Linked DNA regions of Homo sapiens. The protein of the gene in region 1 purifies or fractionates together with the protein of each later gene. This does not show direct contact. Each region holds a gene or a part of one and is shown in the gene's direction. Other genes may lie near its edges. The genes, in order: ZNF608, KANSL3 and KAT14.

Evidence for each region.
Region 2: the proteins of ZNF608 (region 1) and KANSL3 purify together in Homo sapiens (affinity purification with mass spectrometry, with the first as the bait; one large-scale study listed by BioGRID). This does not show direct contact.
Region 3: the proteins of ZNF608 (region 1) and KAT14 purify together in Homo sapiens (affinity purification with mass spectrometry, with the first as the bait; one large-scale study listed by BioGRID). This does not show direct contact.

What each region holds. Positions count from the first base shown.
Region 1 is NC_000005.10:124,645,614-124,649,264, reverse strand, and holds part of ZNF608 (zinc finger protein 608), read left to right. Parts: intron 1-131; coding exon 132-2,586; intron 2,587-3,651. UniProt on the Homo sapiens protein: Transcription factor, which represses ZNF609 transcription.
Region 2 is NC_000002.12:96,631,795-96,635,445, reverse strand, and holds part of KANSL3 (KAT8 regulatory NSL complex subunit 3), read left to right. Parts: intron 1-3,651. UniProt on the Homo sapiens protein: Non-catalytic component of the NSL histone acetyltransferase complex, a multiprotein complex that mediates histone H4 acetylation at 'Lys-5'- and 'Lys-8' (H4K5ac and H4K8ac) at transcription start sites and promotes transcription initiation.
Region 3 is NC_000020.11:18,161,719-18,165,369, forward strand, and holds part of KAT14 (cysteine-rich protein 2-binding protein), read left to right. Parts: intron 1-101; coding exon of another isoform or gene 102-104; coding exon 105-521; intron 522-658; coding exon 659-1,227; intron 1,228-3,651. UniProt on the Homo sapiens protein: Component of the ATAC complex, a complex with histone acetyltransferase activity on histones H3 and H4. May function as a scaffold for the ATAC complex to promote ATAC complex stability. Has also weak histone acetyltransferase activity toward histone H4.

The sequences.
Region 1 (3,651 bases):
TCTTTTCCTTGACTGGGCCCAGCCCTGAAGCTACTGGAGTGTTGACTCCTCTTTACTGCATTGTGTACTTTGTGATTTCACCTGGCTCTTTTGGGGATGCTCATTTTCACATCTGTTACTTGCTTCCATAGGTTTTGTGAGTCACCGACAAGTGACCTGGAGATGAGAGGGGGCCGGGGCAGAGGGAAGAGAGCGAGGTCTGCTGCTGCTGCCCCGGGCTCCGAGGCCAGCTTCACAGAGTCCAGAGGGCTGCAGAATAAGAACAGAGGGGGGGCCAATGGGAAAGGGAGGCGGGGCAGCCTCAATGCCAGCGGACGAAGGACACCCCCAAATTGTGCTGCTGAGGATATCAAAGCCAGCCCTTCCTCCACCAACAAAAGGAAAAACAAGCCTCCAATGGAGCTGGACCTGAACTCCAGCTCTGAGGACAATAAGCCTGGAAAGCGTGTCCGCACAAATTCCAGAAGCACTCCCACTACCCCTCAAGGGAAACCAGAGACTACTTTTTTGGACCAAGGCTGCTCTTCTCCAGTGTTAATCGACTGTCCCCACCCAAACTGCAACAAAAAGTACAAGCACATTAACGGCCTGAGGTACCACCAGGCTCATGCACACTTAGACCCAGAAAACAAGCTGGAGTTCGAGCCTGACAGTGAGGACAAGATCTCGGACTGTGAGGAAGGATTGAGTAATGTGGCACTTGAATGCAGTGAGCCAAGCACAAGTGTATCTGCTTATGACCAGTTGAAGGCACCGGCATCCCCTGGTGCTGGAAACCCACCTGGGACCCCAAAGGGAAAGAGAGAGCTGATGAGCAATGGCCCAGGTTCCATTATTGGTGCTAAAGCTGGGAAGAATTCTGGCAAAAAGAAGGGCCTTAACAATGAACTGAACAACCTTCCAGTAATCTCCAACATGACGGCTGCGTTAGACAGTTGCTCGGCAGCAGACGGCAGTTTGGCTGCTGAGATGCCTAAACTGGAAGCAGAAGGATTAATTGACAAGAAAAATTTAGGAGATAAAGAAAAGGGCAAAAAAGCTACCAACTGCAAAACGGACAAAAACCTCTCTAAACTGAAAAGTGCCCGGCCCATTGCCCCTGCCCCAGCCCCCACTCCCCCGCAGCTAATCGCTATACCCACTGCAACCTTTACAACGACCACCACTGGGACAATACCCGGACTGCCCTCCCTCACAACAACTGTTGTTCAGGCTACACCAAAGAGTCCTCCGTTAAAACCCATTCAACCAAAGCCCACAATTATGGGAGAGCCCATCACCGTGAACCCAGCTCTGGTGTCACTCAAAGACAAAAAGAAAAAGGAGAAGCGAAAGCTAAAGGACAAAGAAGGGAAAGAGACGGGAAGCCCAAAAATGGATGCCAAGCTGGGGAAACTAGAGGACTCCAAGGGGGCCAGCAAAGATTTACCTGGGCATTTTTTAAAGGATCATCTCAACAAGAATGAAGGGCTGGCAAATGGACTGTCGGAGTCTCAGGAGAGCCGCATGGCCAGTATCAAAGCTGAGGCCGATAAGGTTTACACTTTCACAGACAACGCTCCCAGCCCTTCCATAGGGAGCGCCTCGAGGCTGGAATGCAGCACTTTGGTGAACGGGCAGGCACCAATGGCACCTCTGCATGTGTTGACCCAGAATGGGGCAGAGAGTTCAGCTGCAAAGACAAGCAGCCCGGCCTATTCAGACATATCTGATGCTGCTGACGATGGTGGTTCTGACAGCAGGTCGGAGGGTATGAGATCAAAGGCCAGTTCCCCATCAGATATTATTTCTAGTAAGGACAGTGTTGTAAAAGGGCATTCTTCAACTACAGCACAATCATCTCAACTGAAAGAGTCCCATTCTCCCTATTACCACAGCTATGATCCTTATTATTCTCCAAGTTACATGCACCCTGGGCAGGTCGGTGCCCCTGCAGCTGGAAATAGTGGGAGCACGCAGGGAATGAAGATCAAGAAGGAGTCTGAGGAAGATGCTGAAAAGAAAGACAAGGCAGAGCAGTTAGATTCTAAGAAAGTGGACCACAATTCTGCATCCTTACAGCCTCAGCACCAGTCGGTGATCACACAAAGACATCCTGCCCTGGCTCAGTCACTTTATTATGGCCAGTATGCATATGGGCTCTATATGGACCAGAAGTCTCTGATGGCCACCAGCCCTGCCTATAGACAGCAGTATGAGAAGTACTATGAGGACCAGAGGCTGGCAGAGCAGAAAATGGCCCAGACTGGGAGAGGAGACTGTGAAAGGAAAAGTGAGCTCCCCTTGAAAGAGCTGGGCAAGGAGGAAACTAAACAGAAAAATATGCCATCGGCCACAATCTCAAAAGCTCCCTCTACTCCGGAGCCTAACAAAAACCATTCTAAACTAGGGCCATCAGTGCCTAATAAAACTGAGGAGACAGGTAAATCGCAGCTTCTCTCCAATCACCAGCAGCAGCTTCAGGCCGACAGCTTCAAAGCTAAGCAGATGGAAAACCACCAGCTTATTAAGGAGGCTGTAGAAATGAAGTCTGTCATGGACTCTATGAAGCAGACAGGTGTAGACCCAACCTCGAGATTTAAACAAGTAAGATTGTGGAGCGTGGCCCCAACAGGGAGAGAGCAGTCTGAGACTTGTATTATACATGTCTGGGCTTGATCTGGTTAGACTTCTGACACAGGAAAGAAACCCATATTAGTTTTTTCCTCTGCTCTTGAAAAATATCTTAAGATTCTCAGGAGTTACTATGTAGCTCTAAAATGTACATTATCAGTATTTTCTTGTCATGGTGTATAGTAAAAGGAACTGTGGATGGGTGCTTTGCAGATTTGTGTTTCATGCCACTAACTTGCTCTGTGACTCTGATGAGGTCCATTAATTTCTTTTTTTAAATTTTTTAAATTTTTTGAGACGGAATCTCTCTCTGTCACCCAGGCTGGAGTGCAGTGGTGCAATCTTGGCTCTCTGCAACCTCCGCCTCCGTTCAAGCGATTCTCCTGCGTCAGCCTCCTGAGTAGCTGGGACTACAGGCACGTGCCACCATGCCCGGCTAATTTTTTGTATTTTTAGTAGAGATGGGGTTTCACCGTGTTAGCGAGATGGTCTCGATCTCCTGACCTCATGATCCGCCCACCCTGGCCTCCCAAAGTGCTGGGATTACAGGCGTGAGCCACCGCGCCTGGCCAGGATCCCTTAATTTCTTAGTCCAAGGCGAGGGCTTTCCACAATGGGGCTGCTGAATTCTCTTCTAACTCTGAGATTCTGAGTCTTATCTCTGAAATATTTATTTTCCATTTTCAAATTTCTACTAGCATCTTCTTTGAAGATAATAAAAACTGGGTCCCTGAATTCACATTTCCCATTAATCTTTTTAATAGAATTTGGGGCCCAAATTTCTTTCACATGGGGTCAGAGATGCCTAGATTTCAGTCTTACTCCCTATATTAAGTACCCCAAAACTCAGAGCTCAGTGCTGAATGTTTGTGAGGAGGGTGAGGAGGTTTGGGTGGCAGGCCTCAACAGCTGTCCCAGAGCCCCATGGGTCAGTCAGCTTGAGAACACCTGAAAATTGGTCACCACGAAACCACAAATGTACTAGCACCTTCTGTCATGGTTCAGACATCCTGACCCACTGCAACCCCGTGAGCATTA
Region 2 (3,651 bases), on another chromosome or scaffold:
AAGTGAGATTCTGTGGACTTGGTTCTTTTGGTACTTAGAAAATTGTTTCCTTTTATAATCTCTGTCTCCAAATATAGACCCTGAAAGTGAGAATTTGGCATGCTGTAAGAACTCTTTTAGGCCAGTGTGGCCAGAATATAATAGCAGTAGGGGTATAAGTGGGAGGTAGGGAGAAGTTGGCAAGGGTTACCTCGTGAAGGAATTTGATTCTAAGAGTGGTAAGAAGTCACTGAAGGATCTTAAACTAGAGATTCAATTTATACTTTAAAAAGATCATTTTGGATTTTTTGTTGAGTATATTATAGTGCAGGAGTAGAACTTACAAGACCAGCTGCAGGCTGCCACTGCAATGGACTGAGATGGGCCAGAAATCGTGATATCTTGTATAGGGCAGGAACAGTACAAATGGAGAAATATAGATGACTTTGAGATGTATTTCATAGGTAGAGTGAATAGGTTAATAGGATCTGCTATGGTGAATTGGAAGGAAGAGCAAGAACCAGGGTTAAAGGGAAAGGTAAAATTAGGATGACAGATTTCTGGCTTGAGCAGTTGGGTGGTGCCATGAGTTAGGGAAGACTGGAGGAGGATAGGTTTGTGATGGTGAAATCAAGAGTTCTCTTTTAGCTACACATATCCAAGTACTAGCTCAATGTCTGGCCTGGAGAAGATAATCAGCTCTTTTGCCCACCACCAAATCTAGCTGCACATGATTTCATTTCATTTCATAATGATGTAATTATTTCAGTCATTGGAAATGGATGCAGTAAGGTCACTGAAGTCAAAAAGTTAACATAAAGTTTGGCAGGTAGCCACTAGACCAGTTTGTTTGGCATAGTATTTGGGGTGACAAAGTTGGTGCAATGTATCATAAAGTGGGGAAGGACCCTTGGGGCACTAGGATTTGTTTCTTACTTTCTTTTTTTTTTTTTTTGAGACGGAGTCTCTGTTGCCCAGGCTGGAGCGCAATGGCGCAATCTTGGCTCACTGCAACCTCTGCCTCCTGGGTTCAAGCAATTCTCCTGCCTCAGCCTCCCAAGTAGCTGGGATTATAGGCACCCGCCACCATGCCTGGCTAATATTTTTAGTAGAGACGGAGTTTCACCATGTTGGTCAGGCTCGTCTTGAACTCATGACTTTAAGCAATCCACCTGCCTCGGCCTCCCAAAGTGCTGGGATTACAGGCGTGAGCCACTATGCCCAGCTAGATCTCATTTTAAAATATGAAAGACCTTTAGATGTTCATTTATATTTGTTTCTGTTCTAGGCTCTGTACAAAATGAGCTAAGTAGCTAAGGTATGTGCATTCCAGGTCATCTGTCTTAGATAATCATACAGAAAGGAAATCATAGACTTTACAGTATATATTAAATAACTACCAGTTGACTTGCTAATGAAAGGGAAAGTTTGTATGAATTTAAAACTCTAGACCAGCACTGTTTAACAGAACTCTCTGTAATAATAGGAATGTTCTATACCTGGGATGTCCAGTGTGGTAACTGCCGCCACGTGTATCTGTTGAATGCTTGAAATGTGGCTAACGTCACTACGGAACTGAATTTTTTATTTTTTTATTTTTTTGAGACGGAGTCTTGCTCTGTCACCCAGGCTGGAGTGCAGTGGTGCAATCTTGGCTCATGGTAACCTCCGCCTCCCGGATTCAAGCAATTCTCCTGCTGCAGTCTCCCAAGTAGCTGGGACTATAGGTGCACGCTGCCACACCCAGCTAATTTTTTGTGTTTAGTAGAGACGAGGTTTCACCATGTTGCCCAGGCTGGTTGCAAACTCCTGAGCTCAGGCAATCCGCATGCCTCTGCCTCCCAGAGTGCTGGGATTACCGGCATGAGCCACCATGTCCGGCCTTTTTTTTTTTTTTTGAGACAGAGTCTCGCTCTGTTGCCCAGGCTGGGGTGCAGTGGTGTGATCTCGGCTCACTGCAACCTCCGTCTCCCGGGTTCACGCCATTCTCCTGCCTCAGCCTCCTGAGTAGCTGGGACTACAGGCACGTGCCACCACACCCTAATTTTTGTTTTTTTTAAGTAGAGATGGGGTTTTACCATGTTGGCCAAGCTGGTCTCGAACTCGTGACCTAAGGTGATCCACCCGCCTTGGCCTCCCAAAATGTTGGGTTTACAGGCGCGAGCCACTACGCCCAGCCTGAATATTTAATTCTATTTAAATTTTTTTTTTTTGGGCCGAGGTCTCTGTCACCCAGACTGAAGTACAGTGGTGCAATTTTGGCTCACTGCAACGTCCGCCTCCCAGGCTCAGTTGATCTCCCACCTCAGCCTCCCATGTAGCTGGGACCACAAGCTAATTTCTGTATTTTCAGTAGAGACGGGGTTTCACCATGTTGCCCACACTGTTGAACTTGTGGGCTCAAGTGTTCTGCCCACCTTGGCCTCCCAAAGTGCTGGGATTACAAGCCTGAGCCCTTGTGAGCCCTTGTGCCCAGTAATTTTTTTTTTTTTTTTTTTTTTGAGATGGAGTCTCGCTCTGTCTCCCAGTCTGGAGTGCAGTGGCGCAATCTCGGCTCACTGCAAGCTCCGCCTCCTGGGTTCACACCGTTCTCCTTCCTCAGTGTCCTGAGTAGCTGGGACTACAGATGCCTGCTACCATGGCTGGCTAAATTTTTGTATTTTTAGTAGAGACGGGGTTTCTCCATGTTAGCCAGGATAGTCTCGATCTGACCTCGTGATCCACCTGCCTCAATTTAAGTAGTCGTGTGTGGCTTATACCTACTGTATTGAACAGTATCTAGGCAATCAACTTGTTAGCCACTTTTCTCCATTTGTACTGTTCTTGTCCCTAAACGAGCTCTCATGATTTCTGGCCCATCTCAGTCAACTGCAGTGGCTGCCTAGCTGGTCTTCTAAATTCCACTCCTGAGCTGTAGCCTACTAAACAAAAATTGAAAGTGATCTTTTAAAAATATTAGCTTGAGCCAAATCAACTTGCTTATGGAATATATTGTCCTTTTTTTTGAGACTGGGTCTTGCCGTGTCACCCAGACTGGAGTGCAGTGGCATGATCAGAGCTGACTGTAGCCTCAACCTCCTGGGCTCAAGCAAGCCATCCTCCCACTTCAGTTTCTGGGACTGCAGGCGCATACCACCATGCCTGGCTAATTTTTGTGTTTGTTTTAGAGACGGGGTTTTGCCATATTGCCAAACTGGTCTTGAACTTCTGGGCTTAAACAATCCTCCTTCAGCCTTCCAAAGTACTGGGATTACAAGTATGAATCACTGTGCCTGGCTATATTTGTCATTTATTTATTTATTTTTTGAGACCAGCTCACTCCTGGGCTTAAGTGATCCTCCTGCTTCAGCCTCCCAAGTGCTGGGATTACAGGTGTGAATCACTGTGTCTGGCTGTATTTGTCATTTATTTATTTATTTTTGAGACCAGGTCTTGCTCTGTCACCCAGGCTGGAGTGCAGTGATGCAATCATGGCTCACTGCAGCCTTGACTTCCCGGGTTCCAGCAGTCCTCCCACCTTAGCCTCCTTAGTAGCTGGGATCACAGGTGTGTGCCACATGCCCAGCTAATTTTTGTATTTTTGGTAGAGACAGGGTTTCCTCATGTTGCCCAGGCTGGTCTTGAACTCCTGAGTTCAAGCAATCCACCTGCCTCGGCTTCCCAAAGTGGTGG
Region 3 (3,651 bases), on another chromosome or scaffold:
ATGCAAATATTCCAAAAGCCGAAAACATCTGAAATCCAAAACATGCTTGTGCCCAAGCATTTCAGATGAGGGATACTCAGCCTGTATTTATTCTTTCTTAGCAGCCTCAAAACCAACTTTAGATCCCATCATTACTGTTGAGGGACTTAGAAAACGAGCAAGTCGGAATCCTGTGGAATCTGCCATGGAATTAAAAGAGAAAAGGTCTCGAACTCAGGAAGCAAAAGACATTAGAAGAGCCCAGAAGGAGGCCGCTGGCTTTCTTGACAGGAGCACATCTTCTACCCCTGTAAAATTCATAAGCCGAGGCCGCAGGCCAGATGTGATTCTGGAAAAAGGCGAAGTGATTGACTTTTCCTCCTTGAGCTCCTCTGACCGCACCCCGCTGACAAGCCCATCTCCTTCTCCTTCTCTGGATTTCTCTGCCCCTGGTACACCTGCCTCTCATTCTGCCACACCTAGCTTGCTTTCAGAAGCAGATCTGATTCCAGATGTGATGCCCCCACAAGCCTTGTTTCATGGTAAGAGTTTGTTTGCTTTGCTCTTTTATTTTGGGTATGGGCCATGGTATAAATGTACAAGTTTTCACCCCGTGGGCTGTGTGCTCTGCATTTCTTCCTTCCTATGTCTTGATGACACTGTTTTGTACTCTGCACAGATGACGATGAGATGGAAGGCGATGGAGTCATAGACCCAGGGATGGAGTACGTCCCACCCCCTGCTGGGTCAGTAGCTTCTGGGCCAGTGGTTGGGGTCAGAAAGAAGGTCAGAGGCCCTGAACAGATAAAGCAGGAGGTAGAGAGTGAGGAGGAAAAACCCGACAGGATGGATATTGACAGTGAAGACACAGATTCAAACACATCTTTGCAAACAAGGGCTAGAGAAAAGAGGAAGCCTCAGCTGGAGAAGGACACAAAGCCGAAAGAGCCCAGGTATACTCCCGTGAGCATCTACGAGGAAAAGCTGCTGCTCAAGAGGCTGGAAGCTTGTCCCGGTGCTGTTGCCATGACTCCGGAAGCTCGGAGACTGAAACGCAAACTGATTGTCAGACAAGCGAAAAGGGATAGGGGATTACCACTTTTTGACTTGGATCAAGTTGTTAATGCTGCTCTTTTGTTAGTTGACGGGATTTATGGAGCCAAAGAAGGAGGAATTTCCAGACTTCCAGCTGGACAAGCCACGTACAGAACCACCTGTCAGGACTTCAGAATCCTTGACCGATACCAGGTGAATGCAAGCACTTGCTGTAAAGCCCTTGGGGGCAGGAGTGGAGGTGGGGCAGGCAGCACTAGGCATTGGACATGGTTATGCTGTGACCTTTTAAATCCTGAGTAATTTGGGAAGAGAAAAGTAAAGTGCAAGGGAAAAAAATACAAAAATCGCTGGGCTTTATTTTTCAGAATTGTTCATTGTAAGTACACCTGAATACATCTGAGTTTTTCTTTTCCTTTAGGCATTCAAACATAACCTATAAGTTTTCTTCATCTGTCTCTCTTGTCTCTCTCTCTCTGAGGATAGATATGCATGGTTTGTGTCGTAGCTTTGACAAATTTGTTGAGGCCATGACGGTGTCTCTGACACTGTGTTGCAGAGGATCTGAAGGTGTGTAGACATCTGCGAAGGACAACATGAAGAAATAGCAGCCAAGGGATCAGTGTGGTATCAGTGTTGCTCAAAGGATGGTCGGTGGAACCCAAATTTTGTGGATGCTTCTGGGAACAATTAATTCCACTTAGAACTACCTGTATATACTCTCCCACTGGGAGGAACAAGAGGCCTTATTCCCTTTATCTTTGCTAGCACTTGACACTAACCAGCCTTTAAGTTTTGCTAATTGGCTGGCTGTAAAGTGAAATCTTGTTTTTTATTTATATTTCTTTGGTTACAGGTGAGGTTAAATTTCCTGGTTGTTTCTTTGTGAATTGCCTGTTTGGAGTCTGCATGTTTTTCTCTCTTCTCTGGAAGCTAGTGGGATCTGCTCTTCATTGCTGGTGTTCTGGTATTATTCAGTGATGTGCCGTATGTAGGGCTTATGTCTTTCCTTGTGCTGGACATGTGGTGTGTGGGCCCTTTCAATTTGAAACTTTCTTTCCTGAGTATGGAAAAGTCTTGATTTCCTATCTTCTATTTTTTCTGTTCTCTCATTTTAGAACTCCCCATTATTTGGATATTGGACCCTGTAGATTAAAAGTTGGCAAACTTTATCTGTAAAGAAATAAGTATTTCTGCCAGATAGTAATTATTTTAGGCTTTGCCGGCCACAAAATCTCATTCGGAACTCTTCAACTCTGCTGTTGTGATTGGAGAGCCGTAGTGAATGAGTGTGGCTGTGTTCCAGTAAAACTTTATCTACTAAAATGGGCAGTGGACTGGATTTAGCCTGGGGGCTATAGTTTACCAAGATCCCTACTCCAGATAGATCCTCTTTTCTTTTTTTTCCTAATTCCCATCTTTCCTGGGAAGCACAGTATTAACTGGCCTGCCTACCAGGAGCCAAGTCGGGAGGGCCCAGGAGCCCATCGTTTAGGAGGTAAACTGACTCTCCCTGTCTTCAGTACAGTACTCCCACCCTTGGCTTCCTGTGTCCAGAATCTCCCTCTTGAGCCTCTCCAGTCTTCTGCCCGTGGAGGGAAAGATCATTTCCTAGATGTGGGCAGTATAATTACTATAGGGGTATAATTGGAGCCTTTAACCTCTTAAAGAGCCTCACAATCCATAGTCATACCCCCCAGGCTCTAAGCCTGATGCCTTAGGTGACTACACTTCCCTGAGGCTGTGTTTTGTAAATCACCCTGCTTAGCTTCACCACTGGCTTAGGTATTGGCTTTCTTTGGTCTGTTAAGTCATTTGCTGCTTGTTCATATGCTTTTGTTAGTCATCTATTCACTTGTTCTTGTTCTTTTTTTTTTTTTTTTTGAGACATGGTCTCTCTCTGTCACGCAGGTTGGAATGTAGTGGCACAACCACAGCTCATTGCAGCCCCGAACTCTCAGGCTCAAGCAATTCTCCCACCTCAGCTTCCCAAGTAGCTGGTACTATAGGCACACACTACCACACTCAGCTAATTTTTTTTTTAATTTTTATTTTTAGTAGAGACAGGGTCCTACTATCTTGCCCAGACTGATCTCAAACTCCTGGGCTCGAGTGATCGCCTCAGCCTCCCAAAGTGCTGGGATTACAGGCATGAGCCATTGCGCCTGGCCAATATTCACCTGTTCTTTGTTCTTATTCTTGTGGGCCTGTCTGTTTACTGCCTATACTTAATTTTTTAAATTGTAAGATGTGTCATACAGATAGAAGGCAGCATAGAAATATGGTATAATTTAGATATTAGTAAAATAAATGCCCATGTATTCATCTCCTGGATAAAGAGTGTTGTAAACACCTTAGAAGTCTCCTGTGTACTTTCTGTTCCCCTCAGAGGAAGCCACTTTGACTTACAGTGTTAATTATTCTTTTGCTTTTTAAATGTGTATGTCTCTAAATGATATACTTTTCGTTTAAAAAAATACTGAGTAGCAAGCATAAATCTAGCTGTGTAAGTAAATTGCCACTATTAGATGAAGTTTCCTGGAGAAGATAAGCTAAATAGTCATTCTGGGTCATTGTTGTGGACTGAATTGTGTCCCCCTTAAGCATATGTTGAAGTCC